5 linked regions of the Homo sapiens genome follow. The protein of the gene in region 1 purifies or fractionates together with the protein of each later gene. This does not show direct contact. Each region holds a gene or a part of one and is shown in the gene's direction. Other genes may lie near its edges. The genes, in order: POR, BCKDHB, NNT, HK1 and SQOR.

Evidence for each region.
Region 2: the proteins of POR (region 1) and BCKDHB fractionate together in Homo sapiens (co-fractionation; one large-scale study listed by BioGRID). This does not show direct contact.
Region 3: the proteins of POR (region 1) and NNT fractionate together in Homo sapiens (co-fractionation; one large-scale study listed by BioGRID). This does not show direct contact.
Region 4: the proteins of POR (region 1) and HK1 fractionate together in Homo sapiens (co-fractionation; one large-scale study listed by BioGRID). This does not show direct contact.
Region 5: the proteins of POR (region 1) and SQOR fractionate together in Homo sapiens (co-fractionation; one large-scale study listed by BioGRID). This does not show direct contact.

Annotation. Positions count from the first base shown.
Region 1 is NC_000007.14:75,952,369-75,957,158, forward strand, and holds part of POR (NADPH--cytochrome P450 reductase), read left to right. Parts: intron 1-1,620; 5' UTR 1,621-1,633; coding exon 1,634-1,812; intron 1,813-4,539; coding exon of another isoform or gene 4,540-4,593; intron 4,594-4,790. UniProt on the Homo sapiens protein: This enzyme is required for electron transfer from NADP to cytochrome P450 in microsomes. It can also provide electron transfer to heme oxygenase and cytochrome B5.
Region 2 is NC_000006.12:80,200,065-80,204,854, forward strand, and holds part of BCKDHB (2-oxoisovalerate dehydrogenase subunit beta, mitochondrial isoform 1 precursor), read left to right. Parts: intron 1-869; coding exon 870-967; intron 968-3,037; coding exon 3,038-3,148; coding exon of another isoform or gene 3,149-3,154; exon of another isoform or gene 3,155-4,790. UniProt on the Homo sapiens protein: Together with BCKDHA forms the heterotetrameric E1 subunit of the mitochondrial branched-chain alpha-ketoacid dehydrogenase (BCKD) complex.
Region 3 is NC_000005.10:43,651,680-43,655,179, forward strand, and holds part of NNT (NAD(P) transhydrogenase, mitochondrial), read left to right. Parts: intron 1-59; coding exon 60-205; intron 206-1,338; coding exon 1,339-1,534; intron 1,535-3,500. UniProt on the Homo sapiens protein: The transhydrogenation between NADH and NADP is coupled to respiration and ATP hydrolysis and functions as a proton pump across the membrane. May play a role in reactive oxygen species (ROS) detoxification in the adrenal gland.
Region 4 is NC_000010.11:69,391,847-69,395,346, forward strand, and holds part of HK1 (hexokinase-1), read left to right. Parts: intron 1-278; coding exon 279-462; intron 463-3,103; coding exon 3,104-3,259; intron 3,260-3,500. UniProt on the Homo sapiens protein: Catalyzes the phosphorylation of various hexoses, such as D-glucose, D-glucosamine, D-fructose, D-mannose and 2-deoxy-D-glucose, to hexose 6-phosphate (D-glucose 6-phosphate, D-glucosamine 6-phosphate, D-fructose 6-phosphate, D-mannose 6-phosphate and 2-deoxy-D-glucose 6-phosphate, respectively).
Region 5 is NC_000015.10:45,676,025-45,680,814, forward strand, and holds part of SQOR (sulfide:quinone oxidoreductase, mitochondrial), read left to right. Parts: intron 1-76; coding exon 77-286; intron 287-4,790. UniProt on the Homo sapiens protein: Catalyzes the oxidation of hydrogen sulfide with the help of a quinone, such as ubiquinone-10, giving rise to thiosulfate and ultimately to sulfane (molecular sulfur) atoms.

The DNA of each region.
Region 1 (4,790 bases):
AGGCGCCCCTCACCTCCCGGACGGGGCAGCTGGCCGGGCGGGGGGCTGACCCCCCCACCTCCCTCCCGGACGGAGCGGCTGGCCGGGCGGGGGCTGACCCCCACCTCCCTCCCGGACGGGGTGGCTGCTGGGCGGAGACGCTCCTCACTTCCCAGATGGGGTGGCTGCTGGACGGAGGGGCTCCTCACTTCTCAGACGGGGCGGTTGCCAGGCAGAGGGTCTCCTCACTTCTCAGACGGGGCGGCCGGGCAGAGACGCTCCTCACCTCCCAGATGGGGTCGCGGCCGGGCAGAGGCGCTCCTCACATCCCAGACGGGGCGGCGGGGCAGAGGCGCTCCCCACATCTCAGACGATGGGCGGCCAGGCAGAGACGCTCCTCACTTCCTAGATGGGATGGCGGTGGAGAAGAGGCGCTCCTCACTTCCTAGATGGGATGGCGGCCGGGCAGAGACGCTCCTCACTTTCCAGACTGGGCAGCCAGGCAGAGGGGCTCCTAACATCCCAGACGATGGGCAGCCAGGCAGAGACGCTCCTCACTTCCCAGACGGGGTGGCGGCCGGGCAGAGGCTGCAATCTCGGCTCTTTGGGAGGCCAAGGCAGGCGGCTGGGAGGTGGTTGTAGCGAGCCGAGATCAAGCCACTGCACTCCAGCCTGGGCACCATTGAGCACTGAGGGAACGAGACTCCGTCTGCAATCCCGGCACCTCGGGAGGCCGAGGCTGGAGGATCACTCGCGGTTAGGAGCTGGAGACCAGCCCGGCCAACACAGCGAAACCCCGTTTCCACCAAAAAAATACGAGAACCAGTCAGGCGTGGCGGCGCGCGCCTGCAATCGCAGGCACTCGGCAGGCTGAGGCAGGAGAATCAGGCAGGGAGGTTGCAGTGAGCCGAGATGGCAGCAGTACAGTCCAGCTTCGGCTGGGCATCAGAGGGAGACCGTGGAAAGAGGGAGGGGGAGGGGGAGGGGGAGGGACCAGACTTTGTCTCTTAAAAAAAAAAAAAAAAGACTCCCAGGCATAGGAAAGCAGGCATTCACCATAAATCTCATTGTTAACAGGAACTACCTTCATAGCCCAAGGTTTTAGGAATACAGAGACACTCTTGCCAGTCAGGATAGTCCAAGGCTCGTGAATATCAGGAGCCACTCAAGGGCCAGGCCTGGAGACTTGGAACATGCAGGGTTTAGGGCAACCCCCGCCAGCCACACAGCTGGGGAAAGGGTTTGCTGCGAAATGGTCCACTCTTGCGTGCACTTCCTCCCGCCTGCCCCCCGTGCGGTGTCCTTGTGGGATTAGAGGATGTTCCAGCACACTGAGAGTCAGTGGCTGTCATTTTCTCTGTCTTCCAGGGACCCAGTCCCAGCTGCTGCCTTAGCTTGCACCCCAGGACCACCCTGGGCTGGTGCTGACACCACTGGGGGCTGTCTGTTATGTCAGCCCCAGTCCAAGACTGTGGCTGTCTTGGCAGGAACCTGGCTGAGTGAGCCCCTTCTCCTACCCCGTGCAGTGACCATTTCCTGCAGCCCCAGGGGCAAGGCCCAGCATTTAGGTGGGCACCCCAGCCAGCCTCAGGGGCACCCTGCTACCCTCTGCTGACATCTGCTGTTTCTGTCTCCTAACAGTTTCATGATCAACATGGGAGACTCCCACGTGGACACCAGCTCCACCGTGTCCGAGGCGGTGGCCGAAGAAGTATCTCTTTTCAGCATGACGGACATGATTCTGTTTTCGCTCATCGTGGGTCTCCTAACCTACTGGTTCCTCTTCAGAAAGAAAAAAGAAGAAGTCCCCGAGTTCACCAAAATTCAGACATTGTAAGTGCCGCCTCTCAGCCTCCTCTCTCTGTCCCTCTTCTGTCACCACTCCAAGCAGTGTCCTGCATGCGGGCCTCAGGCTGAAAGAAGCAAGGCTCCTTGTAGCATTTTGGGGTGACTCTTGGGTTTTGCCTTCTTGCTAGATTGTGCTTGAGCTCTCCCTTAATCATCTCTTATGTGGGGTTTATAAGGCCCTTTTCTATCTGCTGTTTATATGACCTTCACAGGAAGCACTGCGAAAATGACACCAGTTTACAGATTAAGAACCGGGGGCTCAAGAATGTTAACGGGCCTGCCAGGGTCATTAGCCAGCAATAGCAGCGCTAGAGCTGGAACCCTTTTTTCCATTTATTTATTTATTTATTTATTTGGAGACATGGTCTCACTGTATTGCCCAGGCTGGAGTGCAATGGCGGTGGCACGATCAAGGTTCACTGTAATCTCCACCTCCCAGGCTCAGGCAGTCTTCCCACCTCAGCCTCCCGAGTAGCTGGGACTAAAGGTGTGCACCACTATGCCCAGCTAATTTTTTTTTTTTTTTTTTTGAAGCAGAATCTTGTTCTTTCAACCAGTCTGGAGTACAGCGGTGCGATCTCGGCTCACTGCAACCTCTGCCTCCCAGGCTCAAGCAATTCTTCTGCCTCAGCCTCCTGAGTAGCTTGGATTACAGGTGCCCGCCACCACGCCTGGCTATTTTTTGTATTTTTAGTAGAGACAGGGTCTCACCATGTTGGCCAGGCTGGTCTCAAACTCCTGACCTCAAGTGATCCGCCCACCTCGGCCTCCCAAAGTGCTGGGATTACAGGTGTGAGCCGTTGCGCCCAGTCAATTTTTGTATTTTTTTATAGAGACAGGGATTTGCCATGTCCCGGGCTGGTCTCGAACACCTGGACTCAAGCAATCCGCACACCTTGGTCTCCCAGAGTGTCGGGATTACAGGCGTGAGCCACTGTACCCAGCCTAGAATTGGCATTTTAAAGTCTTTTTAAGGCTGTAGCCACCTGGAAGGCTATGTGCTAATGAGCACAAAATCTTTGGACAGGCCTTATTTTGTTGCTCTTTTAAACTTTTCATGAAGCTTCCTTTTAAGAATAAGTGAAAAAGATGGATTAGTTAAAAGAAAAACGTTAAGGAAATAATAGTATAGATGGTATGTAGACAGAAAAAAATGATACCGAAGGTCTGCCTAAGTGACTGCATCCCTGTCTCTCCAAGATTGATTTCCATAAGCCACACGGAAAAGTCATTCTCCAGATTTTAGGGTCCTGCGGCCAGAATTACTTCCTGCGGTTACGCTTGGCTGTGTTTAACACCAGTCTCAGACTCCAGGGGCCCGCAGCCAGGTTTGAGTGGGGACCTGCCAGGTCAGGTCTGAGCCGAGGGAACTCCAGGGGCACGGGCCTGCTGCCTTCAGGGACTCCCTGGATTTGGCAAGGGGCAGGTCTCAGGGGCAGGATTGGGAGCCATTCTCAGACCAGAACCCCTTTCATTCTGTCTGTCTTCAGGGGACCCAGTCCCAGCTGCAGCCTTAGCTTGCACCCCAGGGCCACCCTGGGCTGGTGCTGACACCAGTGGGGGCCATCTGTCATGTCAGTTCCAGTCCAAGGCTGTGGCTGTCTTGGCAGGAACAAGCCACACAGAAAAGTCATTCTCCAAGGCTGGGCATGGTGAAGCATGCCGCTCACATCAAATCCCGATTCCCTATTCCAATCTGGGTATCAGCCTTCCCCGCCAGAACACTTACAGCCTTCACACCGTAAAGCAGATATTCACACAACACAGTTCTTATACCATGGACAGGGAATTAGTTTTACATTTTTAAAAACTGGGTTCAGGGCCAGGCACAGCGGCTCACGTCTGTAATTCCACCACTTTGGGAGGCCGAGGCGGGAGAAATCACTTGAGGTCAGGAGTTCGAGACCAGCCTGGCCAACATGGCGAAACCCCGTCTCTACCGAAAATACAAAAACTAGCTGGGCGTGGTGGTGCATGCCTGTAATTTCAGCTACTAGGGAAGCTGAGGCAGAAGAATCGCTTGAACCCAGGAGGCAGAGGTTGCAGTGAGCCAAGAATGCGCCACTGCATTCCAGCCTGGGAGACAGAGTCCGTCTCAAAAACAAAACAAAACAAAACAAAACTGGGTTCAATCTTATCTCCATCATTGACTCACTGAGCAAACATTTCCTGAGGCCCTACCTACAGTGTCCCAGACACTATGCTAAGGTGTGTGGCTGCAGCAGTGAAGAAAATAGATGAATGCTGTCTTCATCAAGCTTACGCTCTAGTGGTGAGTGAACCCTGGGCGAGACCTTAACCTCATTCTGCCTCAGTTTCCTCACCTGCTAAATGGAGGCAGTATTCCCAATCTTGTGGGGCTTTTGTCTTAAATGAGGAAGAGTCTATAAACTCACCTAGCACTGCCCCTGAGGGATAGGAGCTGTGTAGTGTTTGCGTTGATCGTATTTCGTGCCAGGCACTATGACGGGCACGATCAGGACCACAGAGCCAGCATTTATGTTAAGCTGGAAAATGAGGGTGTTGCAACATAGTTTTTTTTTTTTTGAGACAGACTTTTGCTCTTGTCACTCAGGCTGGAGTGCAGTGGTGCAATCTCGGCTCACTGCAACCTCCGCCTCCCGGGTTCAGGCGATTCTCGTGCCTCAGTCTCCCGAGTGCCTGGGACTACAGGCACATGCTACCACGCCTGGCTAATTTTTGTATTTTTAGTAGAGACGGGGTTTCACCATGTTGGCCAGGCTGGTCTCAAACTCCCGACCTCAGGTGAGCTGCCTGCCTCTGCCTCCCATAGTGCTGGGATTATAGGCGTGAGCCACCACACCCGGCCACAGCGTACTTTTTAGAAATGCTTTGTGAACTGCTTTAACCTACATTGTCTAATCAGGGCCTCCTTGCAACAGCGCCGTGCGTTAGGTAGCGTGGGTTGCCTCATTTCTGCTCTCAGAGAGGTTATGGGATGT
Region 2 (4,790 bases), on another chromosome or scaffold:
AAAAAAAAAAAAAAAAAAAAAAAAAGAACTAAAGAAGGCTTCTCAGCATAACTGGGCAGTTTTATCAACTTCGTACTCAATTTTATTTTGAAATTCAGTTTATAATTTTCTCCCAGATTCAGTCATCTCTATATAACTTGGTTGGGCAGAGAAGTTCATAAAATGGTTTTCTCTCAGATACCAGTGGCTTCCTTTTGGCTTGGTAGAGCTGATTTAGTTTATCTTTTTGAGGTCTACAGTATTCAGCTTTGAAAAGTAAGGTGTTGTCAGTGACTCTGATTGATGAAGTGTTCATAGATCTAAGGTGAAAAAATACAATCTACTTTAAAATTTTTGGCCCTACTATTTTTTCCAAACCCCCATAAATTTGCTACTTTCTAGAAAATTGATCTGAGAACTTAATTCAGTTTAATAAAGTTTTATCACATGTAATAACAATTTTTAAGAACAATTTTAGATTTACAGAAAAAGTATGAACATAGTACAAAGTTCTTAGATACCACACACAGGGTTTGCCTTATTAACATCTTACATACATGTAGGATACAATTATTATAGTTAATAAACCAATATTGATACATTCTTATTGACTAATGTTCCTTCTTTATTACGATTTCTTTAGTTTCTAAAGTTTATTTTTTTGTTCCAAGATAGCTGATATGTTTTATACATTTATATTGCATTTATTCATCTGTGCAGTAATGTCATGGAGCCATATCATAAATGCTATTTCTGTTTTAAGTAATACAGAATTTAGAGAAACAAAAAATAAAATAAAGCTTTGCTACAGTGAGCTTCTTAAATTATTTTATGCACAAGTGTCACCTCAGAAAAAATGTCCTTTTTTTTTTTTCCTGTTCTGTATTTAGCGGAAGAAGTCCCTATAGAACCATACAACATCCCACTGTCCCAGGCCGAAGTCATACAGGAAGGGAGTGATGTTACTCTAGTTGCCTGGGGCACTCAGGTGAGTAGCATTGATCCCAACTGTTAAAACCTACGTTGTGCTTGGAAGCTCTCATTTTAAATCCTGATACATGAAAAATTGAAAACGATGTTTTCTTTATATCTCAGATTAAGTCTGGTGCTACTGATGCTAATTTCTTTTTTCCCTCAACTTTATTGGTGTGTAATTGACAAATGAAATTATATATCTTCAAGGTATATATGTGATGATTTGATATATGCATACATTGTGAAATGATTGCCATAATCAAATTAATTAATGGATCCATCACCACACATAGTTACTATTTTGTGTGTGGGGGTGGGGGCGAGGACACTTCAGATCTATTATTTTCCCTAGTCACTGCTGTATATTAGATCCTGAGAACTTCCTCATCTTATAACTGAAAGTCTGTGGTACGGATTTCTGAGTGAAGGTGAGGTGTCTATATATATTAAAATGTATATGCATGTGGTGGCCATAAATATATTACAACAATGTATTAATTAGAAACACATATCTTTTGGAATACATGTATACCCATGTTACTTTCGCTGCAAATGGCTATAATCTTTTTCATCACATTTCCTGCCATCTCTCATCATTACTTTGCTGCTCACGTGGACCCATCCACTGGTCAAGCCTCAAAATTCCATATCTTCCTTTTTTTCCAGTGACCCTCTCTGCTGATCCACTTCATTTTCCCCCCGACTTGCTGTCACTTTGCTCTACCTCCCAACTTTTTCTCTGGCCACGAACTCCTATCTCTTCTACTTTTCTCTCTCCTTCTTTTACAGATATGGTCAGTTTTAATTTTTCTGTATAAAGGAAATCCTTATTTTAGGAAATTTAGGGCAATGCAATATAAAGAAGATAACAAAAATAGTTTTCAATATCACAAGCTCCTACTCTCCTTTCCTTTTGATTTTTGGCATGGAGAGCTAGAGTCCTTATGGTTTCTCACCTTCAGTGGGGTAACTCTGCTGCTTGGCGAGTTGTATCCCATTGATATTGTCCTTGGTGGGTGTGGCAAACCTTTTTGCTATCCTTCTGTCCACTTTTTGATCCACATCTCTGTGGTCAGCTCATGACCTTACTTCTCTTTTTAATAGGGAGGTTAGAGTGTATTAGGTATTAATTCAGATAACTTGCTCTTCCTCTTGCTTCTAATTCTTTCCTTCTTCCCTTTGTCTTGAAGAAGAGGTGTCTGGTTTACTTAGCAACCTCTGCAAATCAGTTTCAGACTGCGTTCCATTTTACCTTCTCCAGGACTGTAGTCTATTAGCTAGTCCATCTCTCTCCTGCATCTTCAGTTTTCCATTTCTTGTTGCTCTTATTTAAAAAGTATGTTTCTCTTCACTATTTAAAGATTCCTTTCTCCTTAAATACGATTATGTCTCCCTCCTTTTAACACTGAACTTGAACAACTGTTTTCTAGTGTCTGTATTTAATTTCTTAAATTCATTATATTTTTGTAGCTGTGAGTTCTATTCCCACTAATTTACTGTTTTTGTCAACATTACTGATCTTCTAGTTGTTTAAATTCAGCTCTTATTCCTGCTATGGTATGTGATACTGGCTGCTATCCCTATGAAATCTTTTCCTCTTAAGTTTCTGCAATACACTGTCTCCTGGTTTTCTTTCTAGCTCTTTAACCGTTCTTTTTATCTCCTTTTTTTCTTTCCTTCCCTCCATTTTTCCCTCCCTCCCTCCCTCTCTTTCTTCCTTCCTCTCCTCTTGGTCCATTTTTTCCTTAAATGTTGGTGATTTTTACCCTTTACTTCTCCCTCTACATGCTTTCTACGTATTTGTATGACTTCATTTACCTTCTACATGCCATCTTTGTAATCAGTATCTGTGGTACTGACTTCTCTCTCTAAGCACCTCTTTCCATCTGTTTTCTAGACATCTATACTTGTTATTTTCGCAGAATATGGGCTTCAACATATTTAAAACAAATTTATAAATTCTCCATGCAGATCAGTTCCTGAGACTTTAAATACTGTCTCTAATAGTGACATCAGCATTCAACTAGTTTTTGAGGCTAGAACCTTTGTAGTCATTCTCTGCATATTTTTCTCTTTATTTCAGGTTCATGTGATCCGAGAGGTAGCTTCCATGGCAAAAGAAAAGCTTGGAGTGTCTTGTGAAGTCATTGATCTGAGGACTATAATACCTTGGGATGTGGACACAATTTGTAAGGTATGAATATAATGGTGATAGAATGTCATTTCCCTGAAACCTTTGGCCAAATATGTTGTATATTTGCAAATAATTCTTTTGAAATTGTGAGCTATGTGAGCATTTTCAATTGATTTAAAACTTTTAAATTTGCAGCATGAAAGAAAGTTGTATAAACAGCTTCATGCTCAAGGAAACAAATCACTATAGAATTTATTTTTCCTCCTGTAGTTTCCTTTGTTTAAAATATTACAAAATGGGGTCCTTTATGCAGTCACCTTGGGTTGAATTGTGTGAGTCATAGAGCATATCAAGGATGCCGAAGGCACCTGTGTTTTTGACTTCTTATTAGTTATGGTTCAGTAAGCTAGGTTTAATTTAGTCAGGTAAATTAAGTGATTTGGCTGAATTTTCATTTATCTTCTCTCCAAAAGTAATGGGGATGGATTTTTTAAAAACATAACTCTGTATATAGTCTTAATACTGTGGATTACAGTCTAAGGGTTATGTGGAGATTCTGGCTCCTCTAATTTACAGTTTCTATCTAAGTAGCCTCATGACCTTTGGCCTGATTACATTGGTCTTGTTTTTACTATTAAGATTTACATAGCCAGTTCCCTCTTAAGAATATAGTTTAGCTCTCATTTACCTCTTTATATCCAGTATCTTTCACACCAATGCCAAGATAATTTAAGAAGCATCTATTTTCATATTGATACAAAGAAGGTTAAGCACTCTGTTTGTAATAGTCTTATCAATTAAGTCTAGCTACATGTAAATTATATGTACCTAGTCTTAATAGATAAGTACAATAGATATATGTACGATTAATAGATAGATGTACAATTACATGTAAAATTGTAGGAAACAATGACATGTATTATTTTTTCTTGATATACTGCTATAGTATAGGGCATTTTATATTTACCACTTTTAAGAGCTTTGGCATTTTCATAGCTTTTACAGGCTCTTTCTTGGGTTAGTTACATGAAAATAACCTGCAGATACTACTGTAAAAGTATAGCCTAGGATGTTTTTAGGTGAAGAGTGTTTTATAATTTAGTAGAAGATGTAAGATTTGTTATAGTAAATGTTTGTGAAGACTCACTTGACACCATCTAAACACTTGACATGCTTACAAATGATCCCGAGCCATTCTATTTGTAGTTGCTGTAATTAAGAGCAATATTTCAGATTGAGTTATTCATAGCTTCATGAAAATAACGCTTTTTGCAGGCATTTTCAAATCAAGTCAGACACCGGGTTTTCTTTCAAATAGCCAGACGTTCCAAATTATAGTTAAACTAGAGTTGTCTTCTTGTTTGCAACATATATCCACCACTTATCCTGGGGTTTGTATTTTTAGTGTAGATGGTGCTTTTGTATGGGGATATGATGTTTTATGATGGCGCAGTGCGGAGGGCATTCACATATGGTCAGGGCAAGCACTTTTAGAACTTTATTTACGTATCTATCTATATATATATAAATAATACCTTAAACATTCAAAAAGCATTTGTAGCAGCTTATTGTAAAGCACAAGTATACTAATACTTCATTTTGGCAACCGTGGAAGCAAAGAGAGTAGAGTTAGGGGCAGAAAGAAGGGTGAAGTTGTTTATATTTACATCGATAGCAGTTTGCTTTTGCATCACTGTGTTAA
Region 3 (3,500 bases), on another chromosome or scaffold:
CATGTTGCTCAGTGAGCTCAAAGAGGTACTATGTTTTTTATTTCCTTTGGTTTGCTAAGGTGGCTTTCTGGTGACTCAGAGAATGCTGGACATGTTCAAGCGTCCCACTGACCCCCCAGAATACAACTACCTGTACCTGCTCCCTGCCGGCACCTTTGTTGGTGGATATTTAGCTGCCCTCTACAGTGGTTATAACATTGAACAGGTAAGATGCTCTTTGTAAGTTTTTATATTTACCACAATATTTTCTTCTCTATTAGATTTAACATTGTTAGTTATCCTAATTCAAAGTATCGAGCAAATACAACTCTGTCAAGCAAATACAACAATAACCCTAGAAACATCTTGGTCAAACTGAGCATTCTCTTCCCCTAAGGATCAGGACCCTGGATTCTAGAGACAGATTTTTCTGGTAACTGAGTTTAAATATGGGTTTATGTCTTTGTTTTGATACATTTTTCCACATGTAAGAGGAGTTAAGGTTATCAGTATCTTCATTATGTATCTAGCTAGATTGCGGTGGATTTATAATGAAACAATACAAAATTTGAAAAATTATTATTAAGTACTATTAGTTCTTTTCCTATTCTTCCTCTACAAATCCAGCACATCATCTCTTGCTACTAAGAGATGTTATATATTCATAAAAAAATCCATAAAGAAAAGGATAGTTTAAACTTAATGTTGTATAGAAAAACAGAAATAATCCAGCTGGACTTTGAAAGTTCCAACTTGTAATATAACAGACCTTCAGCTTTGTTCTGAACTCTGTATTTTCTATTTCTTTTCAATGGCTGTCTTTTAGTTTCTTCTATGTTTCCAACCTGCAGTATTTATTGAATGAACAATTTTTTTTTTTTTTTTGAGAAGAGTTGGAGCAGTGAGTCAGAAAGACCTTAGTCTGAATTCCAGATTTCCAATTTATTGATCATTTGCCTTGGAGAAAATATGCAACTTCTTTAAGCTTTGATTCTGTCTTTTGCAAAATGAGGATAATGATTTTTCCCTCTTGTGGATCTCATGACACTGTGACAACACAAATAAAACATGTGGCAAAGCCCCTGGCACTTACCTCAGGGGTTGGCTCTTTTACAGCATTTGGTCAGGTTTAGTATTTTTAGATCCAGTAATGACTCCATTTAAATTTAGGTACTTTTATGTGTATTTGTGCATGATAGCAAATCCAGAAAAAATCAATTTATATAAATGGTATAAGTGCAAATACAATATAAGTATTTAATATGTTAATATTCCTAATTGGCAGGAAAATATATTGAAATCTCTAAGCTAATAGACCAAAGGTTTTAATAATCTCTCTCTCACTTTTCCTTTGAAAAGATCATGTACCTAGGCTCGGGTTTGTGCTGTGTCGGTGCCTTGGCTGGCCTCTCCACCCAGGGAACAGCACGTCTTGGCAATGCACTGGGCATGATTGGGGTTGCTGGAGGACTGGCAGCCACCCTCGGAGTCCTAAAACCGGGCCCAGAATTACTAGCTCAGATGTCTGGAGCGATGGCTTTGGGTGGTACCATTGGTAAGCACTTGTGGGCTTCTGCCTTCATGTGAACTCCAGTTTCTCAATATATATTTCTAAGGTCCATATTGATGAAATAATTAAATTTTGTTCATGGAAGTTGCTTCAGTTAATATTATTTTGGTGAAAATTCATTCCAGTTGGTGTAATTCTCATTCAAATACATTTTAGAACACTGAATAAATGCATCAACTGAGTCAAAATATCCTATACTCAATTCTTATCTTCCTTTACTGACTGTGTCCCGTTAGCTGATAATGGAATGGGGGATTGGAATCCTTATGTATGTACTATACATAAGCTAACTTTTGTTCTGCTGGGTATAAATAACAGCCAAAGATTCTGCTTCATAGACCTGTTAAAAATGAAAAAAAAAAAAAAAAACATGTGCCAGCAGAAAAACTACTGTTTTAATTTTATTCAGTTGTTTGCTGGATTGTTAAATTTTCAGGAATTTTTAGGCTGGGCATGGTGGCTCAGACTGTAATCCCAGCACTTTGGGAGGCTGATGTGGGTGGATCACTTGAGGCCAGGAGTTTGAAACTGGCCTGGCCAACATGGTGAAACCCCGTCGCTATTAAATATACAAAAATTAGTTGGGCATGGTGGCGTACAACTGTAATCCCAGCTTCTTGGGTGGCTGAAGCATGATAATCGCTTGAACCTGGGATGTGGAGGTTGCAGTGAGCTGTGATCATGCTGCTGCACTCCAGCCTGGGTGACAAAGCGAGACTCTGTCTCAAAAAAAAAAAAAAAATTTTTTTTCCAGGAATTTTTAAAGTTGATTGTTAAACACAGCCATTATTAAATACTAAATTACATAAACTTAAATGAATCAGAAACAAAGTTAATAATATTAAAAACTCGTAACTTTCTAATTAATTTACTAGGTTTTATTGTCTATGCTCTTGAGGTTACTTATGTCTATTGTATGTGTATAGAAGAAATACTATGTATCAGTGGGCTGTGGTACATCTCTTTCCAATTCTACATTCAATGACATCACATTGGTAGATTGAAATTTGACTTGGTAGCAGTATTGCAGTGTGGAAATAAGCAAACGCTACAAATCTGGGCTTGATTTATTGTTTTGTTTATTGTCCAGACGTGAGAAAGTGATGGAGAAAATGTTAATGATGCAGCTTAAACTTGAGATGTTTTGACTGTAGCTGTGACATTGTGAATAGCACAAATAATTGAGCAAATAATCTTCCAGTATTTGAAAACTATTATCAGATTCAGCAATAAAGTCATTCATATGGTTGATAAATGAGTGAAGTTCTCGCATACATTCTGTTGTTTTACTTTCGTCTTACTTATTAAAGCAAATAAAAATATCAAACAATGTTCCTGTTGGAAGTATGCTTGTTCATCAGTTGCAAACACTAGGTTGGCTACAGATGTAAGAGTTTAGCAAAGATCCATAAAAACATTCTTTGAAAGTCAATTTGTCTACATGGAATTTTCAGTAAAGAGCACTATTTCTTATTATTTGAAAATTGTGTGCTAGCCACCTTTATATCAGTTAAAGCTCATGTATTTGTATGTGCATGTATTTTTTTCCCCTGGAACTGGTTATTAAATGTTTCCCAGTGGAACACTGGCTTTAGGCCTCCTTTTATACTTCCTCAGGAAAGCTTTGACTCTTTTCTTGATAATCTCTGGGGAAAGGGACTTGAAGGAAAATGTTTGCTCTGTAGGTTCATGGCAGGAAAACCTTTAGACATGATCTTAGCAAATATTCTGAGCCCCACTCCTTCTGTATCACCTACCTATAGCCATGCAGTTCCTTCAGAGGCTCCTAATTTGGGTATTTACTGCCCAGATTTTTGCATTTCTTTACCTTGGGACTTTGCTCCCACCTACCCACCTGAAAACCAAGGTCTTCTTCATGTTCCAGGTGTTTCTTATGTGCTCAGGAGAAAGCACTGGCTATAGAGAAGAGGGCCTGGGTTGCAATGGGGAG
Region 4 (3,500 bases), on another chromosome or scaffold:
CTTCTATTAAAATAAACATAACCCTGCCTGGACGGGTGAACACATTGGCTCTTGGTTGAAAGTCAGCTAAGCAGGTGCCCTCTGGGTGATGTGGCTCAGACTCTCCATTTACATTTCAAATTTTTCCATTTCAAAATTGGGAAAGAAAAACTATTACTTTGTTCATCACAAAAAACGTGCCCCCTGCCTGTGGAACCTCAGGCCCCAGACCCCAGGCCCAGTTGCAAGACCCCCAAATGCAAGGCCACCGCTCCTCATTGCCCCCTCGTGTGTTCCAGGGACCGGCAGCAATGCCTGCTACATGGAGGAGATGAAGAACGTGGAGATGGTGGAGGGGGACCAGGGGCAGATGTGCATCAACATGGAGTGGGGGGCCTTTGGGGACAACGGGTGTCTGGATGATATCAGGACACACTACGACAGACTGGTGGACGAATATTCCCTAAATGCTGGGAAACAAAGGTAACCCCGCCTGGTGGAGAGGACACTCACAGTCAGGGTGGGGGCAGCACTTGGCTGCATTCTGCCACTTGCAGTGGAAGAAGTTTCTAGGAGGAGAGGTCTGAACAGAGGTTTCAAGACTGGACCCCCTGGCTCACTCCTGACCTTTGTCTTTTGGACAGCAGAGAACCAGGGAGGACAGACCCCCAACATGGTACAAGATGGCCCAGGGTTGATGCCTGTCTAGGGGCTGCCTGTGACTGTTTTTTAGCCTGGAGGATTCTGGCCTTCCGGTCCCCTTGCTGTGTTCCTTTCCCATCAGAATAACAAGGGGGTGGGGTGAGGGTGGCTGGGCGGCAGGTTGGTGTGAAGCAGAGGCCCTGTCGCAATCGTCCTTTCCTCCGTGAGCCTCCTGCACCACCTAGTGGCCTTGTGGAGCTTTGCAGCTCAGGTCTCAGGTACCATGTCTGAAATGGCAGTGTCTGCCCTTTGTCTCAAGCCCCCAGGAATCAGGCCATCCTCTGCCACGGCCAGGATGAGTTGGTCCAAGTTGTCTCCCTAGGAGCAGAAAGAAGGGCTGGAGCAGCACCCAGCATGAGTCACTCCCTAGCCCCCTCAAGGTTTTTGCCTTTTCTAAATACCACCCATGCTGTTATTTACTTAGTGCTTTTCTTCGAATCAGCTTACAGTTTTTTGTTTTTCTTTTTGTTTGAGGTGGAGTTTTGCTCTTGTTGCCCAGGCTGGAGTGCAATGGCGTGATCTCGGCTCACCACAACCTCCACCTCCCGGGTTCAAGCAGTTCTCCTGCCTCAGCCTCCCCAGTAGCTGGGATTACAGGCATACACAACCATGCCCAGCTAATTTTGTATTTTTAGTAGAGACGGGGTTTCTCCATGTTGGTCAGGCTGGTCTTGAACTCCCGACCTCAGGTGATCCGCCTGTCTAGGTCTCCTAAAGTGCTGGGATTACAGGTGTGAGCCACCGCAACCAGCCCTTATAGTCTTTTTCTTTTCTTTTCTTTTCTTTTTTTTTTGAGACAGAGTCTCACCCTGTTGTCCAGGCTAGAGTGCAGTGGTGCGAGCTCAGCTCACTGCCACCTCCTGGGTTCAAGTGATTCTCCTGCCTCAGCCTCCCAGGTAGCTGGGATTACAGGTGCACGGCACCACGCCCAGCTAGTTTTTGTATTTTTGGTAGAGACCAGGTTTCACCATGTTGGTCAGACTGGTCTCGAACTCCTGACCTCAGGTGATTGGCCCGCCTCAGCCTCCCAAAGTGCTGGGATTATAGGCGTGAGCCACCGTGCCCAGTGGCCTTTAAGGTCTTTACTGACATTTAATGAAGGAGGAAAAAGAGGAAGAACCAATAGTACCATAAAGAGATGGTAACTAAAAAATGAGTATAGTGAAGAACCGTGCTATTCAAGTCTAGCTGATGCTGTCGCCTACCAAATGACCTGAACTAAGACCCCCTTTGGGCTGAGTGCAGTCTATCATCAAAGTAATCCCAGCACTTTGGGAGGCCAAGGTGGGAGGATTGCTTGAGCTCAGGAGGTTGAGACCACCCTGGGCAACATAGGGTTGAGACCCTGTCTCTACTAAAAATTAATAACAATAATAACAACAATAATAGTAAGACCCCCTTGGTTAAAAAGCGGGGGGATCAGCAAGTGTTGGAAGGGGTTAAGGACATGTCAGCACCAAACTGGGGTGGTCTTTGTGGTGGAATGAGAAGGACTGGGTGGGACTTCGTAGTGGTGGCCCACCCCTCTGTGATTCCATTCTGTTTCATGTTCTTCCATGGACCACATGAAATAGGAGGAATCCTGGAGTTCCAAATTCCAGGGGACTCTTCTCAGCTTTGGGACACTGGGCTTGGGCATGTGCCATGGAAATGAATCAATCCTTTGTTATTTCTTGAGATCCTTGAGCATGGAGAGGGCAGGAAATTTGAAGTCCCAAGAACAGGTTGACCTCCAGTGTGTTGTGGTCACTGAATTCTCCCTCCTGTGTGGCCTCATCACTCTGCTGTGGGCTTGACCAGTACTCTGGGTATTTGCAAAACCTTTAGAAAAATCTAGAAACTTTCCTTTTTTTTGTCTTCTTGTTCCTTTAAGACTTAGCCCAGTCATTTGCTTATTCTGCAGATAGTTTTTGGGCACTTTCCTGAGGGCCCAGTGCTATGCTATGCTGTGCTGTGCCCTGGGGACTCAGAGCTGAAAAAGACACACATGCCCTGTCCTCTTGGGGCTGTCACTACAGCAGTGGTGGTGGGAGGCAGTGAGCTCAGGTGTGTTGTGAAGGAGGAGAATGGTGAGGTGTGTGGGAACCTGAAACAGGCAGGTAGAACCCAGGATCAGGAGGAGGACAGGCTCTCGGGGAAGTGACCTTGGGGCTGAGAGCTATCAGGCAGCTGAGGAGGGAGACCAGTCTAGCAGGTAGACATGAATGCTGGTGGTTTTGTTTCTGATGTGAGAGAGTGGAGGACTCCCTGGTCCTTCCTGGTCCTCCCACTCTGCCTCTGCGGCAGAGCACAGGGCTGGGCACATGGCTGTTGATGATGCGCTTGAGGGGCAGTAGGAGACGCGGAGTGACCGTGAGACCGAGGGGTGACAGTTCTCCTGGCCACTTCCCATAGACACCCCAGGCCCCTCCTCCTGTCTCAGGTATGAGAAGATGATCAGTGGTATGTACCTGGGTGAAATCGTCCGCAACATCTTAATCGACTTCACCAAGAAGGGATTCCTCTTCCGAGGGCAGATCTCTGAGACGCTGAAGACCCGGGGCATCTTTGAGACCAAGTTTCTCTCTCAGATCGAGAGGTGAGTGGGCAGTGTCTTCCCTGCCAGCGCCCACCCTTCAGAGGTCGCCTGGCTGGTGGATTGTGATGGGGGTGGTAGGGACCCTAGGGGACATTTTGGCCATTTTTGAGGATTTTTTTTCCTCTGGAATAGCAGACCCTGGGCATTTGCATAGTGAAATCTTATAATTTTATTATAAATTACTTTTCTTGGCCTGGTGTGGTGGCTCATGCCTGTAATCCCAGCACTTTGGGAGGCCGAG
Region 5 (4,790 bases), on another chromosome or scaffold:
ATTCTTGTCTGGATTAAAAAAAAAAAAGGCAGCTGCAGTCATGCTTTGGTGTGAATGGTTTTCTTATTTTTCTCAGACAGGGAAGCGATCCAAGGCCAATATCATTTTCAACACTTCTCTTGGAGCCATTTTCGGGGTTAAGAAGTATGCAGATGCCCTGCAGGAGATCATCCAGGAGCGGAACCTCACTGTTAACTACAAGAAAAACCTCATTGAAGTCCGAGCCGATAAACAAGAGGCTGTATTTGAGAACCTGGACAAACCAGGAGAGACCCAAGTGATTTCAGTGAGTGGTGAGGCTAAGCTGTCAGCATGAAGCGTTGTCTGCTGAAACGTGCCATAGATACATGGGGGCTCACACCACCCTATCTGCCATCATTGTGTGCTGGGGAAGACTGGGTGAAATGAGCATCTTAGGGAAGTGTTAGGGCAAGAAGGTAGGCCAAAATGGTTGGGGAAGAGAAAGATGTAAGAGGCTGTGTCAGTGGGAGGTGAGAAGGTGTCGTTAGCTGGTGCCAAGTGAATTTTTGTCCTATTCCTTTGACTCAACTTTTCCTGGCATCGAGTCACTTGAGGTAGCCAAAAATATTCCACAACTTTGGTTACTGTGTAGAGGTAAGGGAGGGCTTCCTCGAATGCAAGATCTGGTGATTGTCTCAATTGGTGGCATGTGAGAAACAGTCCTGCTTGTGAGCAGGAAGTAACCCTGTGGGTAGTTGAAGAAAACAGGGATTGGCTGGGCATGGTGGCTCACGCCTGTAATCCCAGCACTTTGGAAGGCCAAGGCAGGTGGATCACTTGAGGTCAGGAGTTCGAGACCAGGCTGGCCAACATGGTGAAGCCCCATCTCTACTAAAAATACAAAAATTAGCTGGGCGTGGTGGCACATCCCTGTAATCCCAGCTACCCGGGAGGCTGAGGCAGGAGAATCGCTGGAACCCAGAAGGCGGAGGCTGCAGTGAGCCGAGATTGTACCACTGCACTCCAGCCTGGGTGACAGAGTGAGACTCCGTCTAAAAAAAAAAAAAAAAAGAAATAATCTCAAACTTAGAGAAGTTACAAAATAAAAATAGTACAAAGAAAATTGTATGTAGCTTTTACCTAGATTCACTTGTAGAATTTTACCATTTGCTTTAGCTTTATCATTTGATTTCTTCCTTCCTTCCTTCCTTCCTTCTTTCCTTTCTTTCTTTCTCTCTTTCTTCTATCTGCCTTTGTCTATCTATCTATCCATCCATATCTAGTTTTTCCAAGGAAATTTACATATATCATGCATCAGCTCTCTTTAGCCCCAAATACTTTAGTGTTAATTTTCTAAAATAGAAGTGTTCTCTTACATAACCACAGTACCATTATCAACTCAGGAAATTTAGCACAGATACAATTTTTTAACTTACTATTTGTATTCCAATTTAGTTGATTGGCCCAACTGTGTTTGTAGCATTTTTTCCTCCAGTGCAGGACTCAGGCTACAGTCAGGTATTACATTCAATTGTGAGGTCTATTTAGCCTCCTTTAATCTGTGATGTTTCTATAGCTTTTCTTTGTCTTCTATGACGTTGATATTTTGAAATAATACAGCCCTCTCCCCCACCACTTTTCTTTCAGTAGAATGTTCCTCATTTTGAGTTTGTCAGTGTTTTCTTGTGATTAGTTTCAGGCTTTGATATGTATTTATTTATTTATTTATTTTTGAGACGAAGTCTCGCTGTGTTACCCAGGCTGGAGTGCAGTGGTGCAATCTCAGCTCACTGCAGCCTCTGCTTCCCAGGTTCAAGCGATTCTCTTGCCTCAGCTTCATGAGTAGCTGGGACTACAGGTGTGCACCACCATGCCCGGCTAATTTTTTTATTTTTTATTTTTAGTAGCGGCGAGGTTTCACCATGTTGGCCAGGCTGGTCTCGAACTGCTGACCTCAAGCCATCCACCTGCTCGGCCTCCTGAAGTGCTGGGATTACAGGCATGAGCCATCGCACCTGGCCTCAGGCTCTGTTTGTTAGACTGGAACATTGCATAAGCATTGTGCCATTCTAAGGTATCACATTTGCAAGCATACAGTGTTCATCTGCCCTTCATTGGTGATGTTAATTTTGATCAGCAGTCAAGATGTGGTCCAGTTTTTCCAGGGGATAATTACAATTTGTTTTCTCCCTTGCTACTAATAAGAAGTCTGTGGGAAGACACTTTAAAACCATGTAAATAGTCTACTCATTCAAGTCTCCCCACTAGAGTTAGCATCCATTGATGATCCTTGCCTAATCAAATCTTTACTATGGTGGTTGCAAAATGGTGATTTGCTAACTGTGACATTTCCTGCACATTTACCAGTAAGCTCTTGGCATTCTTTCAGCGAGAGTCTTTGCTTCTTAGTTAATTAACTATTGGTATGAACTCATGAGTTCCTATATTTTTTCTTACAGTGTTATCATTCATTATTGTTTTTAATTATTATGGTGCTCAAATTGTTTTGGATTTGGTCAGTAGATTTCCCTTCCAGCTGGCTCTTGTGTCCCTGTGACATGCCCCATCATGTGTTTGAGCACTTCCTTTACTTTCTGGTGTCACAGGTTGTCCCAGGCTCATCTAGTATCTATCTGCAGCAGCTCAGGGTCATCATTTTGAATAGCTCCTGTGTAGTTATGCACACAGAGGCTACTGGAATGTTTGGAGCTAGTTATCACTTTATAAAAGGGTCTCAAATTACTGCTGTTTGTTTTTTGTGTGTCCTTTTTGTAGTTTTCCTTTTTCCTGGCTGTCAGGCCGTTGTTAGTGACTTTGGGAGGTCCCTCCAGCTTTAGCTTTTTTAAATTGCTGCTCCTCAAATGGCCTCACTCAAATGGGCTATGAGTGAGAGCTCATATGAGTGAACTCATTTTTACTTTACAAAAGAGCCCATTTGAGAGAGTCCGTTTGAGTGAGCCCAAGTTGGGCTTTCACTAAAATGAGCTATGAGTAAGAGCCCGAAGCATCCTTTTATGAGCAAAGTGTATGAACTTGAGTGCATGAACTTAACTTTGTTAGTACTTCGTTTCCCAGCTGTCCTCTGGATAGCTGAGGTTGTAGGTAGGGGTGTGGATAAATGAATGGTTATTATTCTTCTAAGGGGTTTGTAATTAAAGAAGATATTTGTGTCCCCTTTGAATTATAGGATTTCAGGTCAGATATTTAGTTCCACTCTTAAAATCTGAATTTCAAAAAATCCACCAGAAGGATGTAAAGCTGTGGCTCTTAACCCTGGCTACATATTAGGGAGCTTTTAAAATGTGCTGATGCCTGGCCTCTTTATAAGAGGTTTTAATTAATTGGTTTGGGGTGCAGATTGAGGATGGGGAGTTTCAAAAATTCCCCTAATGACTAATGTTCAACCAGGATTGAAAACAACTGGTGTGAAGAATTGGGCCGGACGTGGTGGCTCAAGTCTATAATCCCAGCACTTTGGGAGGCCGAGGCGGGTGGATCACGAAGTCAGGAGTTTGAGACCTGCCTGGCCAAGATGGTGAAACCTGTATCTACTGAAAATACAAAAATTAGCCGGGCATGGTGGCAGGAGCCTGTAATCCCAGCTACTTGGGAGGCTGAGGCAGAGAATTGCTTGAACCTGGGAGGCGGAGGAACTAGAAGACACTTTGGAGATTGTCTAGTCTAGTGCATTTCTTTATGGATAAGCAAACTAAAGACCAAAGAGATGAAGTGACTTGTCCAAATAATAGCATTCTATTTTTCTTTGTAAATGAACCTGTTCCTTCAAGCCAGAGATTGTAAGCATGTGATCCACAGATTTTACATATCAGAATCACTAGCAGATTTTAAAGTACAGATTCCCGTGCTTTACCCAGATCTACTAGATTGGGATCTTGGCATGGTGTAGCCTGGGAACCTGTATTTTCCACAAGTCTCCCCAATGCTGCTAATAAACATTAAAGTTTGAAAACCACCACACTGATTGGACTATGTATGTTAATGAAGGAGGACCAAGTTATTTATCCTATACAGTTACAGAAATAAATGATAGATAATGAACAAGCTACAACTAAGTGCCAGTGTTTGTTTGTTTGTTTTTTTCTTTCTTTCTTTTTTTTTGTAGACAGGGTCTCACTCTGTTACCTAGGTTGGAGTGCAGTGGTACAACCGTGGCTCATGGCTCACTGCAGCCTCTACTTCCCAGGCTCAGGCAATCCTCCTACCTCAGCCTCCTGAGTAGCTGGGTCTATAGGCATGCACTACCATGCCCGGGTAATTTTTGTATTTTTTTAAAGACTGGGTTTTGCTGTGTTGCTCAGGCTGGCCTCAAACTCCTGGGCTCAAGTGATCTGCCCACCTTGGCCTCCCAAAGTGTTGGGATTACAGGTGTGAGCCACCACACCTGGCCCAATGTTAATTTCTTTTTATTTCTTTTTTTCTTTTGGAGGCAGGATCTTGCTCTGTCACCCAGGCTGGAGTGCAGTGGTGCCATCTTGGCTCACTGCAACCCCCACCTCCCAGCCTCAAGCAAGCCATCCTCCTACCTCAATCTCCTGAGGAGCTGGGACAACAGGCATGTGCTACTATGCCTAGATAATTTTTTGTGTTTTTGGTAGAGAGGGGTTTGACTACGTTACCCAGGCTGGTCTCGAACTCCTGAGCTCAAGCGATCTGCCCACCTTGGCCCCCCAAAGTGTTGGGATTACAGGCATGAGCCACTGCACCTGGCCATTAATTTCTAATAAATCCATAAAGTAGACCCTTTTGTAGGATGTTAGCTCAGGTAAAACTCCATACCTTTATGATGATTATATGAAAGTATTTAGCTT